Regions from separate parts of the Homo sapiens genome. Here regions 2, 3 and 4 are each linked to region 1. Evidence: fine-mapped expression QTL. A gene starts in region 1. Each other region holds a variant in brackets. All regions are shown on one strand. Distances are from middle to middle. Region 1 holds the start of TBXAS1 (thromboxane A synthase 1). Region 2 overlaps TBXAS1 (thromboxane A synthase 1). Region 3 overlaps TBXAS1 (thromboxane A synthase 1). Region 4 overlaps TBXAS1 (thromboxane A synthase 1).

Evidence for each region.
Region 2: its variant is fine-mapped to the expression of TBXAS1 in whole blood (TOPMed, PIP 0.94).
Region 3: its variant is fine-mapped to the expression of TBXAS1 in whole blood (INTERVAL, PIP above 0.99).
Region 4: its variant is fine-mapped to the expression of TBXAS1 in whole blood (INTERVAL, PIP 0.99).

Annotation. Positions count from the first base shown.
Region 1 is chr7:139,826,661-139,831,809 of GRCh38, reverse strand. TBXAS1 (thromboxane A synthase 1) reads right to left here and starts at 2,546. Exons shown (of 13, transcript NM_001061.7): 1 at 2,331-2,546. The coding sequence starts at 2,419. RefSeq lists an enhancer at 1,674-2,873.
Region 2 is chr7:139,884,532-139,889,680 of GRCh38, reverse strand. All of the region lies in intron 3 of TBXAS1 (thromboxane A synthase 1), which reads right to left. Among named protein-coding and RNA genes, the nearest start is that of TBXAS1, 58 kb to the right of the region's middle. RefSeq lists a silencer at 1,297-1,591. The variant C/A (reference allele first, on the strand shown) is at 2,673.
Region 3 is chr7:139,941,124-139,946,272 of GRCh38, reverse strand. The region is part of intron 5 of TBXAS1 (thromboxane A synthase 1); the gene reads right to left. LOC105375532 (a long non-coding RNA gene) reads right to left here. Exons shown (of 2, transcript XR_928043.3): 1 at 1,970-5,149; 2 at 1-1,188. Among named protein-coding and RNA genes, the nearest start is that of TBXAS1, 110 kb to the right of the region's middle. The variant G/A (reference allele first, on the strand shown) is at 2,954.
Region 4 is chr7:139,953,183-139,958,331 of GRCh38, reverse strand. It overlaps TBXAS1 (thromboxane A synthase 1), which reads right to left. Exons shown (of 13, transcript NM_001061.7): 6 at 4,876-4,964; 7 at 2,725-2,873; 8 at 568-698. Among named protein-coding and RNA genes, the nearest start is that of PARP12, 110 kb to the left of the region's middle. RefSeq lists enhancers at 936-1,436, 2,368-2,868. The variant G/A (reference allele first, on the strand shown) is at 1,959.

The sequences.
Region 1 (5,149 bases):
CAGACACCTGCTGCCATGCCCAGCTAATTTTTGTATTTTTAGTAGAGATGGAGTTTCACCATGTTGGCCAGGCTGGTCTCGAACTTCTGACCTCAAGTGATCTGTCTGCCTTGGCCTCCCAAAGTGCTGGGATTATAGGCATGAGCCACCGCGCCCAGCCCATTTGATTTCACCTTCTCAGGGTTTAGGTTCTCTGCTGCCATCTCACCTGGCTGGATGGCACATGTAACACTTAAAGCAAAGACTAATGTGCTGCAATGTTTAATCCACTCCCCCTGCCAGTTTCTCCTGCAAGTGTCTCTACACCTCCATCTTTCCTTGCCTGTGAATCCTCTCACTGGAGGAAAAGCACCCCTGTCTCTTCCACACATATCCTTTCAAGACAATGAAGCAGGAAGGGGGCCTTGCCTCATTCAAGCTGGTGGCTGTTGCTTAGTGGCTGACTAGAGTCTCACCCGGAACAGAAGGGTTGAAAGCCCAAGGGTGGTTCCCCTTGCACTGAATCAAGGGATGGACCCAAAAGCACCAGAGCCAGGGCCGTGACCTCTCTCCTGCTGCCTCTGCTCCTCCTGCAGTATCCTCTCTAGACATCCAGCTCACCCCCAGAACCTCTGTGTCTCCCCTGCCTTGGGCACCTTCTCCAGATCTCCTGCTTCCTGACCTTGTACCAGGGCCTCCTCCAGACTGGGCACACATTAACAGGTTAATAAATATTTTTGCAATAACAAATAGAAGTCAGCTCTCACTTCCTGTTTACCACTTCTGCTTGGTACATTTATCTTAATCTCTGCATCTTTGAACCAGGTTATTAATATGGCCCAAGAATAGACAGCAAACACATAGCTGCCCTGCTGAATGGTGTGGTGTTCCTACATGGCAGGCACTGAGCTGGAGGCTCAGACACAACAAAGACTGAAACAAAAGTGTAAAAAAGTGTCCGCTTTGAGAACCACAGTCAGAGCATAGCTATTGATGAGATTAATATGAATAAGCACATTAGTAAGAAATTAAAAATAAACCTAAACCACTAAAGACTTATTTTCTTTTAGGTTACATAGATGATAGATGGTTAATTATAGTGGCTGACATCGACTAAGCACTTTCTGCATGTCAGACACTGTGCTTCGGGCTTCCCGGAGCATAAAAACACATTGAGATGGATTATTGGGGGCTGGGGGTAGGGAAGGAGCTACCATTTGCTCTTGGTTTTACATGTGGCCAGTTTCAATCCAAGGTAAGCTACAATGAGATAAAAAAGTTCAAAAAAAAAATTAAACCAGTTAAAAAGAAAAACAGCACTGGGACTGAGGCTGGGTTTCAGAGCCAATTTCCAAGAAGTAATTTCATCATCATAGAACATCAAACGTGAATTCCACTCTCAGCTATGCAAATTCCAAAAGAATAATACCTCACATTTGCATAATGCTTGATGCTTTTCAAAGTGCTTTCCCAGTTATTAATCTAGAGAAGGCTTTATTACTACTGAAAACATAAATTAAAATTCTGTTCGGACTCCAGTCCTCCATTATTTTTTCCACTCACTTTGCCCTCAAAAGCCAGAGCCATCTAAATCCAGGTGCTTTTGATTGAATGGGTAACTCTAATAAGTTTAACTGACAGGGCGAATATGCATAAATGTAGCATATTATGAGGCCTTCGACCTACAGACACCAGAGTCAGCCTTAGGAAAATTTGCTGTTGAATTAACAAAACCACAGGGGAGCAACTCGGAGTTCAAGTTTGAGATCCTTTCAGGGTCTCAAATTTTGTAGGAGCTGCACACACTATGTTCATCAGAATCCATCTCCCTCTATCAACTATGAGAAATTAGATCTACCACTTTGTCCTTAACCCTACAGAAATCCCCCTCAATGACTTCCTGCAAAGAGGCCCACATTTGCCAAACAGCTCCTACGTCTTGTTTTGTTTTGAATGTAATATGAACCAAGAGGCTGAATTCACTGTAAATCCAACAAGGACAGAGGATTTTAGAAAAATGAGGTGAGGAGATATGACGGGGTTCAAGGAAATGCTTCTACCCAAACCTAATGCCTTTCCAATTTGTTTCTTTTTCCATCTCTTTCAAACTTAATTATGTGTAGCGTTCTCAGTCACTGAATCACCAGCCTTTCCTGACACTTCAATCTCATGCATTTTAGCAAAAGATTAACCTGGCTGTTTGCTTTTAATTCTGAAGCTGTGTTAATACTCACTCCCGCTAGATTAGAAAAGAAGAAAAACACACTCCCACATACCCCGCCATGGCACCAGCAAGGCTCCAGGGTGAGACGGCTGACGCTGTCACAGTCCCTAGGGCTGGCTGCACTTACCATTTCAGGAGGGCCAAGAGAGCCACTGACAGGGCCACCGTCACCATGGGGCCATTCACTTCCAATTTTAGAAACCCCAAGGCTTCCATCATTCCTCTGAGACCCCAGAGTGGTGGTCTTCCAGATGAGACAGGAGGCTGATCTCGCCGCCCTTATGGGAACCGTGCTCTGCAGGTAGAAAAGGGAACAGGCAACCAAGCAAACATCACATGGAGTGGGCCCCCACAATGTGCTCTTTCTCAGAGTGTCTCCCTATAAAGAGGAAGGAAGAGGAGGGCACAACAAAGGGTTTCAGTGTAAAGGAATGAATCAGCAACTTTATTCCTTGATGACTGCACTGTCAATAAACATTTATATTAACTTCCTCAGAGAAGAAAAGCAAACTTCCCCATGTTTGCTGAGAAACAAAATGGTTGTAACCACGGACTTGTACTCTGAGAGGAAGTCTTCAAAGAGAGACTCTTCTCCAAAATGTCTATCTATATCTATCTCTATGTCTATATCTATATCTATATCTACATCCATCTATAATTTTTTAAATTCACAATTAAGTGAAGATACATGTCAAGAGATTCTGAATATCCCAGAAAAATACAGGACCAGACGCCAGCCTGATCAAAATGCTGGCTGCTTTGAGGACAACCATCCCACCAAGTCCATTAGTTGCTGGGTCTGAGGACCTGTCTGAGTGTCTGGCTGTTGGAGCAAAGCAAAGATCCCGATTGGGGTCAGTGTTCTCATGGTGAGTTGGAGGGCTTCTCAAGTGTTTGAAGGCAGATCCGTAGGCTCATATATGGGTCCTTTGTTCTAGCTTTGAGCTTATCTGACTAAAGTGGACAGAGAGATGGAGGGGATCATAGTGGCTGGGTGGCAGGACTAGATTGCAGCTTCAGACAGAGCAGCATCTGGAGGCTTCCATGGTGAATTTTAGCTCCAGATCAACTGCAAGAAAAAACCAGCAATCCCAAAAGGACCCACAGACTCTCTGAAGGAACCAGACTGCTCCTGCAGGACCCAGAAGACACTCCAAATACTGTGAGTGCCCCATTTGCGGAAGTGGGAAAGGGAGACCCTCCTCTCCCAACACAATCCCCCAATATTGAATGGGAGAAATATTCAATGAAATAGCTTAAAGAAAAAATAATTGAAAATTCAGGAAACTTTGGACACACTTTTAGAAATGTGAAATGCTCTGGAAAGTCTCAGCAATAGAATTGAACAAGTAGAAGAAAGAAAATCAGAGCTCAAAGACAAGGTCTTCAAATTAACCCAATTCAACAAAGACAAAGAAAAAAGAATAAGAAAATATGAACAAAGCCTCCAAGAAGTCTGGGATTATGTTAAATGACCAAACCTAAGAATAATTGGTGTTCCTGAGGAAGAAGAGAATTCTAAAAGCTTGGAAAACATATTTGGGGGAAGAATCAAGGAAAACTTCTGCAGCCATCTAGAGACCTAGACATCCAAATACAAGAAGTACAAAGAACACATGGGAAATTCATTGTAAAAAGATCTTTGCCTCAGCACATTGTCATCAGGTTATCCAGAGTTGAGACAAAGGAAAGAATCTTAAGAGCTGTGAGACAGAAGAACCAGGTAACCTGTAAAGGAAAACCAATCAGATGAACAGCAGATTTCTCAGCAGAAAACCTACAAGCTGGAAGGGATTGGGGCCCTGTCTTCCGGCTCCTCAACAAACCAATTATCAGCCAAGAATTTTGTATCCAGTGAAACTAAGCACCATATATGAAGGAAAGATACAGTCATTTTCAGACAAACAAATCCTGAGAGAATTCGTCATTACCAAGCCACCACTACAAGAACTGGTAAAAGGAGTTCTAAATCTTGAAACAAATCCTGGAAACACATCAAAACAGAACCTCTTTAAAGCATAAATCACACAGGACCTATAAAACAAAAATACAAGTTAAAAAACAAAAGCAAAAAACAAACAAAGAAGTACACAGGCAACAAAGAGCCCGATGAATGCAATGGTACCTCACATTTCAATATTAACACTGAATGTAAATGGCCTAAATGCTGCACTTAAAAGATACAGAACTGCAGAATGGATAAGAACTCACCAACTAACTATCTGCTGCCTTCAGGAGACTCACCTGACACATAAGGACTCATGTAAACTTAAAGTAAAGGGGTGGAAAAAGACACTTCATGCAAATGGACACCAAAAGCCAGCAGGGGTAGCTATGGGCTTCCTTTTCTGTGCCCCCACAGGTCTTAGGATGGTCACAGGTACATTTGTTACAGAAGGCTGTGGTCACAGGTGCAGATTCCCTGGAAAGGAGTGAGAGAAAAGACAGGGAGGGCACACAGAAGGCTGCTGCCTTCACCCAGAGAGAAGGGATGCTTGGCTAGAGGAGAGAGGGAGGTGGGAAGAAGTAGATGGACTTGAAATATATTTTGGGGGTGGGTTCATGCTCTGCAGAAGTTCCTGGTGGGGTGCATATGAAAGGGAAGGGGAAAGGAGGACCACACCTGACCCTCAGGTTCCAAACTTGAGCTACAGGTATATCAGGTGCCATTCATTGAAACAGGGAGTCTGGGAAAGGTGAGGTATTGTTGGGAAAATCAAGAATTCTGATTCAGTTTTGTTAAGCCTGAGATGCCCTGGAGACATCTGAGTGGAGGTGTCGAGCCAGAGAGCACTGATGGCTGAAAATATGAATAATAACAATTGATCATGATCATGTCATTTGAGTGCTTACTACACACTAGTTATTCTAGGAGCTTTCCTATGTGTCAACTCATTTAATCCTCATACACACACCTAGCGGGTAAATCTTATGGTTAGCCCCAAG
Region 2 (5,149 bases), 58 kb before region 1:
GCACCATCTATGAACCAGAAAGTGAGCCCTCACCAGACAATGAATCTGTTGGTTCCTTGATCTTGGACTTCCCAGTCCCCACAACTATGAGAAATAAATTTCTGTTATTCATAAGCCACCCAGTCTATGGCACTTTGTTATAACAGCTTGAACACATGAGGATGAGGACAAGCTCCAACGGATTAAGAAAAAGATAAAACTATTTTGTCTTTGCCCTGTTCAACCTCTTAATTATGGTGGAATCACCATGTTGTCTCCAGCATTTGAAGTCAGCCTCAGTGATTAATGTTGACTCATCTCTTACTTGTTACAATCAATGACTTGCTGCATTTTTAGGACATTTTCTTTTCTTTTTTTTTTTTCCTTTTTTTTCGACAGGATTACAGTGACATGATCTCAGCTCACTGCAGCCTCTGCCTTCCTGGCTCAAGCGATCCTCCTATCTCAGCCTCCAAAGTACTTGGGACAACAGGCGCACATGCCACCACACCCAGCTAATTTTGGTATTTTTTGTAGAGATGTGGTTTCACTATATTGCCCAGGCTGTCTCAAACTCCTGGGCTCAAGCAATCTCCCCACCTCGGCCTCCCAATGTGCTAGAATTACAGGCACGAGTCACCACACCCGGCCACTACAGGACACTTTCTCTATAAAATTCTCCTTCTTTTCCTTCCATTTCTGATAATCTAAATCACTCTTATCTCTCTCACCTGTGCTATCAGAATGTTTTTTGCTAGTTTTTTTTTTTAACTCAATTCCATCCTCCCCCTGCACCCCTTCTCCACTCTATACCTGCACAACTTTCTTTAAATAACCCACCTCCTTAGCACCAGTCCTGAGGTTCTCTCTCATCTGCCACTGCCAAGGTTGTCCTCTCTACTTGTGCCCCAAACATCACATTTTCCTAGCACACATTTGGCCTCTACTCTTCTTCTTTCTATCTCAGCCAAAACCTCTGAACTTTCTCCCATGCATATGTGCCTGGATACACTCTTCTCCACAGGCCACCTGCCACCTCTCCTTTTTTGGATAGGTATAATGTGAGCTAACCTTTCCCAATGAGCACACACTCAGTGCAGAGACTGTGGGGTACAAGAGGGGAATTCAATATGTCATGAACAGTCATGAAGCAGGAGTGTATGCCCTGTGATATAGTGGAAAGACTGTGGGAAAAAAACCCAGAGGAAAAAAATTGAGAAGCCACCAATTGCAAGAACAGGATTTTGACAAATTACTCAAGGTAGGAAGCCCAGAGATCGAAGGGTCAGTTCCAGGAAGAGAAGGAACAGTGTAGACCCAGGGAACAAGGAAGCAGAAGTCAGTAAGAGTTTCAGACACAGAAGACAAAATTTATGTGAGACACAAAGGCCACAGTGAGCTGGTGGGAAAGAGGAAACTTGGAGGGGGCTGAAGGCAGAACCGAAAGGCAGACACATAAATTGTAAAGGGTTTGGCAGCAAGGAGTGAGATAAGAGGAGAAGGAGCTCTGGGTGAGGACTACTGGGAATTTATTAAAGCAAACTGAATTTATCGTGCAGTGCAAGCATTTGTTGATAATGGGGTCGGTTTGGTTAAAAATGCGCTTACTGGCCTAGCCAAAAGGAAGTTACAGGCAAAGTCACTGGGGTCATACATTCCAATTAGAAATGTGTGGTTCACCTTGACCAGTTGGGATCCAGGGCACAAAGGGAAGTGTAAATTTAACCTGAGCTCACTCTCAAGGTTTGAAAACAAGAAGTAATGGCCACATAATCGTGGTGAAAAGGGGACAACAAAGCATTGCTATAAGATGTCCTCCAAAGGTGAAATGGTATGGTCACTATGGAAAACAGTATGACGGTCTTCAAAGAGCTAAAAATAGATTTACTCTGTGATCTGGCAATTCCACCTCTGCATATATACCCAAAAGAACTAAAAGCAGGGTCTCAAAGAGGTATTTCCACATCCATATTCAAGTAACATTATTCACATTAGCTCAATGCTGGAAGTAACACACTCCGCCATCTACAAACAAACGAATAAACAAAAGGCAGAATAGGCTTACAATGGAATATTACTCAGCCTTAAAAAGGCAGTAGTTCTCCCATGTGCTACAACATGGATTAACCTTGAGGATATTATATTAAGTGAAATAAACCAGTTACAAAAGGAAAAATACCATATGATTCCACTTTATTGAGGTACTTAGAGTAGTCAAATTTGTAGAGACAGAAGGTAAAATGGTGGTTGTCAGGGCCTGGGGGAGGAGGGAAGGGAGAGTTAATGTTTAATGAGGACAAAGTTTCAGCTTTGCAAGATGAAAAAAATTCTGGATGTGAACGATGATGATAGCTGCACGACAATGTGAAGGTACTTAATGCAACTGATCTATACAATGAAAAATAGGAGAGTACATTTTGTGTGATGCATATTTTAACACAATAAAAATAATGTCCTCCAGCCAAATGTCCTTCAGGTTATTCTCAATACCTAGATCTAACCGAGAAGTGGGAGACCATCAATTCTGAAACCATGGGTCACAGTGTTCCTCCTGCTGGCCAGGTTGTAGAGGCATGAAAACCCATCCCACCTACTCATATGAAACCTTTCTCCTATGGGTGTTAGCTGTGGGTTCTCGGGCCCTGAAGCCCTGGTACTCATGAACAGGTATGGATTTTGAGCAGGGCAGAACT[C/A]AGGATGCTAAGTGTCCATTCCAGATTGGAGATAAAGCATCCTTGTGGGCTCCTACACAGAGGAGGACAAAGAGCTGAGGCTTCTTGCTCATGGGATGCTCCAAAGAACCAAAACTCTAGCAGAGAAGGCTAAGCCTTTGGGGGAAGCAGCTAACAATCTTTAGGCTGGAGTCTTTGGGAAGAACCTAGTGGCCATGTCAATCATCAGTCTCAAGCTGTGGTCTGGCAGTGAGATGAAGAAGTGAACTTGAAGAGTTACAAGCAATCTTCAAAGGCAAATGGAAGAGCCATTCAACAGTTGCCTCTTTGTGGTGAATATGCACTAGGCATTACATTAGCCACGGAAAAGATGGAGGTGGCACAAGCCAGGGAGTACCTGGATTTCCTTCCTGCAGTAGCTCTGTTGTGAAGTGCAGTAGTTTTGATTCAATCCTGGATGCCCACATCTCCAGTAGGCCAAGTAGTATCAAGAGGTGCTGGGGGGTGTTTTAACAAAAAAGACCACAATTGCCTCATCAAACTAACATGCTATGACAAGCCATTCACCAGCCATAGATTCCGGGCAAAGGTTAATAGGTTCCTCTTTAAGCCGAGGCCAAAAAAAAAAAAAAAAAAAAAAAAATTCATCTGCAAAGAGTGCCTCCTTAGTGGTTAATGTGGGGAGCCTGGAGAACATGTCAGAGAGTCAGACCTTTATAAATAGGCCAATAAACTGACAGCCTTACTCAGGGTGGAAAAACTTCATAGAGTGGGTTGCAAAATTCTTGCAGCTTGAGGGTGAGATGGAGGAGAGGTTGTTAGGAGCACGGTCTTGAGATACGAAGAATAATCAAAGAACTTATTTTCGTAGTTAAGTTTATATTATCTGCCCTAGGCAAGCAGGCATCATAAAACTTGGTGGGGCCTTGCTAAGGAATTACTTTGTGTGCATAGCTATAGAAATGTTACACATAAGAGTGATCAGGAGTAATTAGAATGCATAGTAAACAACCCAAACTTTAAAAGATTTAAAGATCCTAAGGAAGAAAGAAGAATATGTTCCAGTTTAAAGGCTAACGTCAAACATTCAAAATTTAGTAGAATTTCAAACGTGTATGCGGTGGTGTGTGACTTTTTTTGCTTGAAAGTTCACACTAGTATCTGGAGTTAATTTGGTTTTAGACATTTAGATTCCTTTACCTTTTGCCCTATGTGAGTAACAAGATTTAGAACTGGTTTTTAATCAAGCAAGGATTTCTAAGAACTTGTTTGGAAAAAGTTCCTCTGCTCACAAAATAGTGATGAAAGAGGAACTTTAAGCTCTAAGTGAATTGGGAACTCATTGCTTCTTCAAATTTAGTAATAATTTCTTTTAAATTTTGAAATCAAAGATGGCTTGTCTTTCTTCTTTTTAGATAGAATAGGAATGCTATTTGCATTCTCAATCAGAGTGAAGAGCCCTAAGAATTGGGTAAATGTGTGCACTTTTTGAGACTGTCTGTGCAAAGTTCTTGACAAAAGATATATGCATACAGCCATGTGCTTTCTGGACCTGCTTCCAGATGGGAGAATGCCTTGACAAATGTCACAGTGATTCATGACTGTTTTACATACTCTATTATGCATTTTGGGTTGAACAACTTGGATTTGTTGCAGGTACGCTTCAATTAAATGTGGAATTTATTATTTGAAGATATTAGCTCAAAATAGAGCTTTTATGCAACTTTAATTGAGACATTCTATCGATTGGGAACACATCTGTGCAGAGCTGTCACTTACAGGATAAAGAAGGTACTGATGCCATATTTGATAGTTACTAATGAGGAATGAGTTAGTTCCCTTCCACCTTGAACGTGATATACAGTTCTCCATGGTAGATTTTGGATGTGAATATCAAGGAAAGCAAAATTAAAAATCTGTGGCTGACGCTCCAGCCGCTGCAGTCCTCTCTCCTTTCTAGCCAGGTGCTCTGTCCCTCATCTGCAGGCCCAGCCCTGGCCCCAGAAGCAGGAACAACCTCCAGCCACACATCATGAGACTCGGTGCCTCTCCAGCATGGATCTGTTCCAACCATGATGGACCTGTCCACCCTGACTGATATCGGAGATTAGGTCTGGCTTCTGGTCCTGGGCCTCACATGATGCTGTGAATCTTAGAACTGAATGTCAATTCCTGGTTCATCCTCAGAGCCCTCACCGCTGAGACCCTGCTGTACTACCTAGACTCCTTTCTCAGGGCCGGGGGCTTCTCAGGTTCCTGAACCACCCACTAGTGGGGCCCTGGTGTCCACTGACAGCCTCCTCATCGCTGCTTTACTGGACGCCTGACTACTGTCCAGCTGACACCTTCCTGGTGCACAGCTCTCTCCTGGACTGTCCACTGTGGCCAGTGTTTGCTGGAATGGGGAGCACCATCTTACTCTTTAAACGCTGCCCTTCACCCACAGCAGGAAGTTTAGCAGGAAGCTGCTCTCTCGGTACCCACAGCCTGGTCAGTTT
Region 3 (5,149 bases), 110 kb before region 1:
GCCCTCCTGGGCTCAAACCATCCTCCCATTTCAGCCCCTCAAGTATTAATATCTGGGACTACAGACACACACAACCACAGCTGGCTAATTTTTTTAATGTTTTGTAGAAACGGGGTCTCCCTATGTTGCCCAAGTTGGTCTTGAACTCCTGGGTTCAAACGATCCTCCCACCTTGGCCTCTTGAAGTTCTGGGATTACAGGCATGAGCCACCATGCCTGGCCAGATCTTCCAAAAATACTTGTTATTTCAGTAATGCTTTGCTGAAACATTTGTAGATCCCCACTGACTGAAGGACACAGTACAAGATTCTTATCTTCCAAAGTCCATTACGAATTGAATCCTGCTAATAACCGTGTGATGAGGCTTAGAAGCAGATCTTCCCCCAGTCAAGCCTTCAGATGAGACCACAGATCAGGCCAGCCATTTGACTACTACTCCAAGACACCTTGATCCCTCTGGCCTCAGCCCTCAGTCCCTCTGGACTCAGCCTTTGCACTCAGCTAAGCCATGCCAGGATTCCTGACCCACAGAAACAATGAGCTAACAAAAGTTTGTTTTAAGCCACTAAGTTTTGGGGTAATTTTGTTACACAGCAATAGATAACTAATACACTCTCAATATTGCTCTTTTGTGGTAACTATTGCATGTTGTCATGGATTAATGAAGTTTTTGGTATTTGTTATATCAAGAATGAGCATAGCACACCCCATTCTGTTGATTTTCTAGAAATACCTGTGTGATGACTGATTGATCAAATGTTCCTTGAGAGCCTTGACATAGAAGGTACCCAAGAAACATGAACAGATTGAGGCACTGTCTCTTAGCATGAATACAGTGTGGTTTGCTGAAAACTGGCTCTGAAGAAGAAAGCTGAGACTCATGCTGGTCCTATGTGTTACTTTGGACCTGGCATTTGAATCTCTCTGAACGTGGGTCCTCATCCCTAAATGAAGGGCTGATCGCAATGAGCTATAATGTCCCTTTCCACTGACATTTGAAGATTCCAAGGAGGTCACAAAGCATCAGGTTGAGACAGTTGCTTGAAGCCATGGAGAGAGCAGCCAAATTCTTAGCTCAGTGCAGGGAAGTGTCAGATCATTGGTCCATGTGCTTTCAGCAACACATCCCATTCCCAAGAAAGCCTTTTGTCATTTCTTTGACACATCAACTTCAGAATACATAGGGACCTAAAGGGCAGAATCTGGTTATTTTTGTGTTCAAATGAGAATTGGAACCCCAGATATCCTGACTCCTGGCTTGTTGCTTTCCCACAAAACTCAGCCTCCACATTTCCTTTGCTCCTTAGTTTATTCACTTCTAGGTCATTCTGTGCAGATCTTATGTCATAAACTTGAGAAAGAAAAAACCCACCATCTTTAAGCCTTTGGAGTTCCTGAAAGTTTGGACAATGCTGAGTGCTAGGGAAAACATATTTCCTACACAGAGAGAGGGAAGGAGAGGGTCTTTTTTACATAACCCTATCCATCTAAACAGAGATAAGCCCCAAACGTTGATGGTGTGTAGCTTGGGTGACTTGTTGATCCACACACGAAGAGGGACTCAAAAGAGCCACAGTGGACACCGCTGCCTTGATGTCATAACATGGCCCCTGGGAGCCTGCCCATACTTGGGGCTACTACAAAGAGGAGACTCCTCCAGACAATTCACAGTTCCCCTCATCTGCACCAGAAAGATTTGCCCCATGGGTCTGGGAAATGGCTGGCTTGGGGGCTAAACAGCTGAAATGAAACCCTTTTTCCTAACACAGAGTTCTGAGCAGGTCACTCCCTCACTTTCAAGTATTTAATAGCTCCTCGAGCTCTAGTGAAGTGTGCACCAAACACTCTCTCGGCACAGAACAGTGAACTGTACGTGCCTCAACCTACTTTTTCAGCTTTCTTTCTCACTAATCCCTTACATGTACTCTGTGTTCCAGCCAATTTGTACTCCCCTATTCCCTGAACATACCCTGTACTTTTCTGTCCAGATGCCTTGATTCCTGCAGCTCATTCCACCTGCAATGCACCTTCTCCCTCTGTCAAAACAGCAAAATCTTCAGAGCTCAATTCCGGTGCTACTCACTGCTTCCTCCCTGCCAAAGTGGCTTCTGATGCTCAAAGCAGGACCCCAGCTCTGTCACCACCTTCCACGATTGGTAATAATGCAGTGATTTATGTACCTTGTTTCTCTTCTACATTATAAACTCCTTAACAACAGGAACTAATTAATAAATATTTGTTGACCTTTATAAATTGAACATTTCATCTGATTTGGCCCTTGGTGGACCTGGGGGCAATATTTTGGGGCTGATGTCAGAGGAGGGTTTTCTGAATAAGTAAGGGTCAGCTGCTGGGGGTGGGGGAAGGTATTTAAACGTATTTCTGGGTTTTTTTTTAAAATGAAAAAATTAATGCCTTAAAGTGCTCTAAACTGGTGACCAACAAATGAAAAATTAATTTCCACTAATGAAACTTATCACTTCCTTCTTCCACTACACCATCGCTAAAAGCCACCCAGATATTAAAAACATCCACGACTCCTTTTTATGCAAAATTTCCTGCTGCTAAGTATCAGCTCTAGCCATCTAGGTGAATAATCAAGTGTCATTTCTAATAAGTCAGTGGCTCCTGTCAAGACTTGTGACCAATTAGAAGTCACCCCAATGAGGAGGTGGCTGCTGGCGTTGCCAAGCAACAGCCAAGCTGTGAGGCACATTTAGATGCTCTTTTAGATTTAACCAGCGGCAAGTCAGAGTGACATTATAATTCTGGCAAAGGAAAGCCAAATTATAACCCAGGCTGGGGTGCCCATGATGAGGAGTGTGTTTTCTTTTAAATGCAAATGCAAAAGGAACATTTAAACCAGAATTTAAACAGTCCATCATGATAGTGATTTTAATTAGTAGATCAGGTGTCGGTGGAACACGACTGTGTCTCAGGATAATGGTCTCTC[G/A]CTGCTAGATAAATACCCAGCTATTCCAGAAAATGGGCAACTGGTCAGGCAAGGCCAATGTATTTTTGGACTCTGAAGTATTGATGACTACAGCCACACTTGGTTATAATGACGTTCATTTTTATTGTTCAGGAGGATTAAGAAATAAAAGCAAATATTAAAAATAGACTGCTGGAAATGGATGCCTCCTAGAGAAGGCTGCTTGCTCTAATGTTATTGGGAAGCGTGTTCTGCCTTAGAAGCCCCCATATGTGACCATCTGGAGAGTTTACAGTGAAAATTTAAAGGCCAAACTAAACTGTGATGATGACTGTAATTCTGAAAAGACTTTTGCACTGAAATGCATTTACTCATAAGCGGGCTATATCAACTTAAATTTTTAAAAATTGTAGTCATTCTCGAGTAACATGTCGTCTCCAAGTCAGGAAATGCCTACAGGGAGTAATAACCACATCTGCCTCTGCCTTTAAGATTCATACATTATTGACTGTGCCTTCTTGACGGGGAACATCTGGATGAAAAGTGAAAAATTAGGCAGAGAGCCGGATCAGTGCTGTGCGAGATACCAGCCTCCCATTTTATCTGACTTTTCTTTAACTGAGTCCCTATGCATAGCAACATGATTGGTTCATTTACTCTTGAGTGACACATATATCCTTAGGCACTCATCTATGAAGATTCATTGTCTCCCATATCTGCTCAATGGGGTACCATCAGCTCTTAGTTATCTGGGTGAATGAAGAAAGCCCATCATTTATATTGGGCTTTGAGAATGGAGAACATACAAGCTGCCATATTGGATTGGATCCATGGTTAATGAGGTTTGAAGCTTAGTCTCTGCTAGAGGCACTCAAAAACTGGGTTCTTCATGGAAGCTACCTGCAAAGGATAATTGCTCAAGAGACTCATTTCTCTCAGTAGCCAACCAGGAAGTTAACAACCCACGTTCTCTCCTTTTGAAAACCTATTTGAGCCCAGAATAAACAAAGTTAAGCAGGTTTCTTTACTGCAGGCCTTTCTCAAGCCTTTCATATGCTCAGGTACATGGTGAATCTTGAAGAATATAGTTTGTAATATTTCACCAAATTATTTGACTATGGGGCCTTTTCGGTCCTCCATATTTCAAATCCTTTTCCCTGGTAGTAATTCATAGCTTGAAATTCATCATCATATAAGTACAGTTTAGATGCCTTTCTCCTAAATGTATTCTTTTATTCTTGCTTACACTGAAGGTTACCTGCCACTTTTGTGCTGACTTATGCAATCTTACAAGAGTCTCAGAAAGTTATTCCTATTGATTTAATATCTTTCAAATCAGAACAGCTTAGAGGAATATACAAATATATAGATTCCACTGTGTTCTCTCTCTTTCAGATGAGTTATAAAATTTAAAAATAAATCTAGTGCTAACCTGGGTCCCCAGGGGATCACATTATTTATACATTTTCCGTCAGAGAAGTACTAATTTAGCCCCAGTTTTATTTCCTGAAATTAAACCTATTTATTCCCTCATCCTTAATAAAGTTTTACACAATCCCAGGGTTACTACTCACTAATAGTCTTTGGTAAAGAATCTAGCAAAAGACTGTGAAAATCTAAATCTACAGTTGTGCTTTTTAAAACGTCAATTCTTCGGGGGATGGAGTGAAAACTCTGGCCAGTTAAGCAGACAAAATCTTCCCTAACAACAGCAACAACAACAAAAAGTCAGTTGTTTTTCCAGGAATGCTCAGCCATCCTTTTCTATAAATCCCAATAACTTGTTTGTCGCTGGCTATGATTCCAATAGTCTCTTTTTCCTGACTTGGAGATGCATGAATCACATTTTCCCTGGTTCTCTGTTGCTCTATATTATCCCTGGTATGACATAGGCCAAAAAAAAAAAACAATTTTAATTTAAATACAAATATGGCTTCATGATATGATGCTCATTTTAAAGCCATTTTCAAGCATTGTTGACTGAGGCAACCTAATATCCGCATAAACGAAGACAACGCCATCCAAAGCTTTTGAATATTGACCATACTTAAAGACACAGGTAGAGAGGGACTTAGGCTGCCAAGGTTCTAAAGGAGAAAGCCTCAGAATTCCAAGGGGAAACAAACTTTTATTTCAAGAATAAACTCTGATGTTTGATAACAAAAGTCCAAAGACTACTTACAAATTCAGAAAGGACTAGAGATGCTGGTATTTCAA
Region 4 (5,149 bases), 130 kb before region 1:
CTGCAAGGAGGAAAGAAAATGCTACGTCTCATATGAATCGTGCCAAGGAGTCCAGGGGGCCCTCAACCACGAGTTCTGTAGCGACATCCTCCATGCTGAGTGGGAGTGTGGGGTTAGTGACTGACAGTTGCCGAACTCTCTAATAAGCATGCTGTTCATGCTGGAGAACTCCATCTTGCTGGGTTTTCAATATAAAGAATATGCTCATGAAAATTGCATGTGGGCACACTTACCCAGAAAATTCTTCTGGGCTATTCTAACCTGTGCTTGGGTTGATGCTTGCACTAGGGAGACAGTTTTGGGGGCGGCTTTAATTCTACCCGTCCGTGTCCGAGGATGTACACATTGCTGTAGGCTTCTCTCTGCCGTCCCACCCTCCCTTTCTTGTCTGACCTTCCTCAACCTTCCTCTGTTCTCTCCACTGTCCCTGGAAGCTGTAAGTGGTGGGTTGCTGAAGGACGGCACGGTGTGATGTGCGGGGCTGAGAGGGAAGAGAAAGAGCAGAGACAGTGATGCCAAAGTCGGCTCCATTCCATTTCAAGGCTGTGTCCTATTAAAATACGTTACCTCTTCGGCAGCTTGCTGGTCCCGCAAGGCAATCACATTCCTAATGAGTTTGTTAAAAAAGCCATTCAGTTCGTCTCGGTTCTTATTGGGCAAAATCCGGGCCAGTGGGACCATTATGGATGGAAATGATACTTGAAAGAGAAAAACAAAAGTGGCATTGAAAAGGGGGTGATAATAAACCAGGGCCATTAGACGCCTGTTCCCGGGAAGCAAACGCGGGCCTGGAATCGGAGCCGTTTTGGAGTCCTGCCCTCCCCGCCGCACTGCTGCTTCTGAGAGCAGGGGTGATGTCTCACTCCCTCTCGGTACTCCTCACCATTCCTGGCACATAGTAAGCACTCAATAAACATCTGTGCAATTAATCGAGTCTGCACTTCCATCTGGCCCTCAAGAGGTCAAGGTCACCCTCATAAATTAATGTTTCAGGTCCTGGGGATGAGACCTGAAGGTCTTTGTACTTCATTAAGAGAGAAAGGATTACAGGCTGTTTCAAGCCTTAGCAAGTGGTAGAAGCTGATTTACTTTTTACAAACTTTCTGGTCATTTGAATTTTCTTTCCAGTGGATAATTGTTCCCAGCATGACCTCCTGAATTGCTCCCAAGAGCTGCCACTGCAGCTGCTGACAAGGGTACTGGCTGTTGCTGCTGTGGGTGCCTCCCTTGCCGGCCCCTGGGTGCAGCATGGGCCCTTGCTGCCATGTGCTGGGGATCGGGCTGCCAGAGTCAGGAACCCCTCATCTCCCCTGGAGAGGGGCACTGGCTGGGTTCAGCTTCTCAGCTTCCATTGTGGGTTCACCCTGTACCGGGCTCTATGGGAGCTGGGCTGGGGAGAACATCTCCAGACACACATGCTCTCAGAATGCGCAGGCCCATTTTCAAGAGCCAGAGTCCGAACCAATGTGACACAGCAGCAGGAGGGCCCTGCAGAGGCAGAGAGGAGAAATAGAAGGGATGGCACAACTGAGCCACCTGCCCCACAGGCCTGGGCCGTGGTTGAGGCACAAGGGGCAGACACAGCCTGCGCTGCCTCCAAGATCGGTGGAAAGGGTGCAGGAAGAGACTGCTGGACACTCAGAGTGACTCTGCCTACGATTTCAGGGCGGAGCCAGTGAGGTGACGGGCTCCCATGGACATCGGCTCAGAAACGGGAATGAAACTGGTCAAGGAATGAATGGAATTTACCAGCCCAGCAGAATGGTTAGAAATCATGGCAATAATCAATACCAAGCATAACAACACGTCAATGCTCCTATAAAAGCAAGAAGATACTAGAATTGGCCAGAGGGCAAAATCTCACTTCTACAATAAAAATAAAATAAGTCCTGGTGTGGTGGCTCACGCTTGTAATCCCAGCACTTTGGGAGGCCAAGGTGGGCGGATCACCTGAGGTC[G/A]GGAGTTTGAGACCAGCCTGACCGACATGGAGAAACCCCTTCTCTACTAAAAATACAAAATTAGCTGGTCGTGATGGTGCATGCCTGTAATCCCAGCTACTCAGGAGGCTGAGGCAGGAGAATCGCTTGAACCCAGGAGGCGGAGGTTGCGGTGAGCCGAGATCGTGCCATTGCACTCCAGCCTGGACAACAACAGCGAAACTCCATCTAAAAAAATAATAATAATAATAAATAAAATAAAATAAATAGACTGGTCCTCGTGCATTGGGTGACCTAATCCTCATCCACCACACAGGATTTCTGTGTGTTGGGCTTCAAGTGGAGAAGTCTTGTGAAGAGGATTTTGCTGAAGGAAAGAAATATGCCCTAGGAAATGAAAGGCTTTGGGTTCCAGTCTCAGCTCGGCCTTTCTAGGCCTGTTTCACACCTGAGAAATAGGGACAAGAATATTTTTCTCATAGGGTGAGTACTAGGACTAAGTGAGGCAACGCACACCCCGTGCCTAACACGGTGCGTCCCAACCGTTCTCACCATGGCGGTGGGGCCACTTATTACCAATGCCAGGGCTACAGCATTGCTAATAAGTGGCCCTAGGCGGGTGACAAGAGGAACCCGGTGGCTCCATAAGACAAAGCCTCTGCAGGGGAACAACCCGAGTGCCCTTTCCCAGTGGCAGGGACAGAGCCCCAGAAGCCACCCCAGGTGTCATGGGGTCTGCCCAACTTGCTGGAGTCATCGCAGCGCCCCGGGCTGCAGCCGCACTTACAGAGTAAAACCAGGATAGGTCTGGGGATGCAGAATTCGAAGAAACGCTTGCAGTGTTTCACAAAGGGATCCTCAGGGGCCTGCCAGGAGTCCACCGGGGTGCCAAAGGCGACGCTGGCAACCACATCTGTGGTGTAATTGCAGTAGCACCTACGGGAGATGGGAGCACAGAGATCTGAAAGGACTCTGGCAGGGGCTACCCACAATGGCCCCCTCCAGAGGAGGAGGGCCTGAATTGCTTACACTGGCTTGCCCAGCCCTGCAGATGTGTCTGGAAGAGGAGCTTCTGCAGATCTGGGGGGAGGTGGAGGGAGATGGGCTCCTGGATGGGGCACTCTGAGCAGTGACGGCAGAGGGTGGGAGGAGACACGAAGACCTGGCGTCTAAACAAAGACCTGGGAGGAGAGGAGGGCACAGCCTCTTCCACCTTCGAGCCTCAGGCAGCTGTGGTCAACCAGAACACAGCCAGGTACTAAGAAGGACACTTTATAGTTTCCTCCCTGGGAAGGAGGGCACACAGGTGACCCAACGCCTACATGCTGTACCCAAAGCTCTGCACAGCCCAGCTCAGGCCAGAATCTAATGATTGACTGATAGACATCAAATTGTCCTTGATGAATTAACAACCTAATTATCTAGTTTTATTAACTTTGTCTCCCTCTTCCTCTTAATGATTTTACAGTTTTCTTAATAGCAATGAACAAAAAGCAAGGGCTCTTAGCACTCAAATAAACACAAGACAAACTTTAAGGCAGGCTTCATGAACATCTGTATATTATTACAGAAAACATACATTGTGCTTTAGAAACAAACAGAAGGAAAAGTGTCTGGCAGGAGCTCCAGAAAATTTAACCTCTTAGGCTATAGGAAAGCTGCCCCCTCAAAAGGCCATTTTAAACTCAAATGATTCTTTTTGTTATCTTATAGGAGTAGTCAGATTAAGTTCTTTTCCAAAAAGCTAAAAACTGGGTTATTAATATCTTTTTATAATTAAAAGGCCAATTTTTGTTCTCAATGTAGGCACACACTTAACTCCTTTTGTACATGAATTCTATAACCACTAACTTATCATTAAGGAATACATGACGTTTCCAGATGACTTTTAAAATTCACACTGCTTTTATTGAAAACGTTTCTACAACTGATTACACGTTTCCCTGCTAGAGTGAAAACAAGAATGAGACTACTGAATGTGATTTCATCTGATCCTGAAGGTTGAAGATTTAAGGGTCTTGAGGGTTATTTACTTTGCTTTTATAGCTGATGAGGCCACCTTATCTTTAGCCAACTCATGCATCCTATAATAATCAGAGACAATGTGGATGAAAAGACTGTGTAAACTGGTGCAATACCAGTGTTGGTGATGATTATGTTATTATTTTATTAGCAATGATAATAATGAATAAATTTCTGGATGATTCACCATCCCACTTTATTCTTTATCTGCTGTAAGCCATGATTTGGCATAAAATGACTAAAGCAAAGGTGGCTAAATCTTTTGGCTTGCCTGGGCCACGTTGGAAGCAGGAGAATTGTCTTGGCCACACATAAAATACAGTAACACTAACGATAGCTGATGAGAAAAAAAAAAACTGCAAAAAAACTCACAATGTTTTAAGAAAGTTTATAAATTTGTGTTGGGCCACATTCAATGCCATCCTGGGCTGCTTGTGGCCAGCGGGCTGTGGGTCGGACAAACTTAGACTAAAGATGTTTTTTTAAAGCAAAAACCTTTTAGTTACAAAATGACGAAAAGCCAGATAATCAGTTATTTAAATTTGGTGTCCACCACTAAATTATAGCTTCTGGGCTGAGGTGCACCACAATTTTTCTTGAAGTGAAAATGCTTGAACTTTCCCCCCATCCCTGTCCTTAGGCGCAGGCCTGTCCTGCCCATTCCTGGGTCTGTGGAGGTCAGAGGGTGGATCCATCCACAGGTTCGACAGGACGCACGTACCCTGGCTCTGCTCACATCTCTTTCCCATGTTAAGTGGGTTTCTTTTCTTTTTATTAATCAGTCCATCCATGCTTTTATGAGCTTCTAGCGTTTCCACAGTTTGCTAGTCCCAAGGTAATTGTCAGCAATTATGGACAGTTACAAGAAGCAGTGATTCAAAAACTCGATTTCTCATCTGTAATGCAGCAGCCTTACCTCTGGATGTCAAATGCGTCCCCAGATTCCGCATAGCGTTTTAAATGAGCCAGGAGAAGGTCGCAGGCTTGGCTGATGAGGGGAACCATCTGATAATGGATAACAAAGGTGTAATTAGGGCACCATGCCGGGAGTACACCTAAATTGGCTGCAGATGAAGAGGTTATATGTAGTGCTTTCTGGGAAAATGAACACTGTTTGGAAGATATTTTTCACACAGCTAAGATTCAAGAAGAAGATCCTAAAATTCACAAATATTCATAAAATACAATAG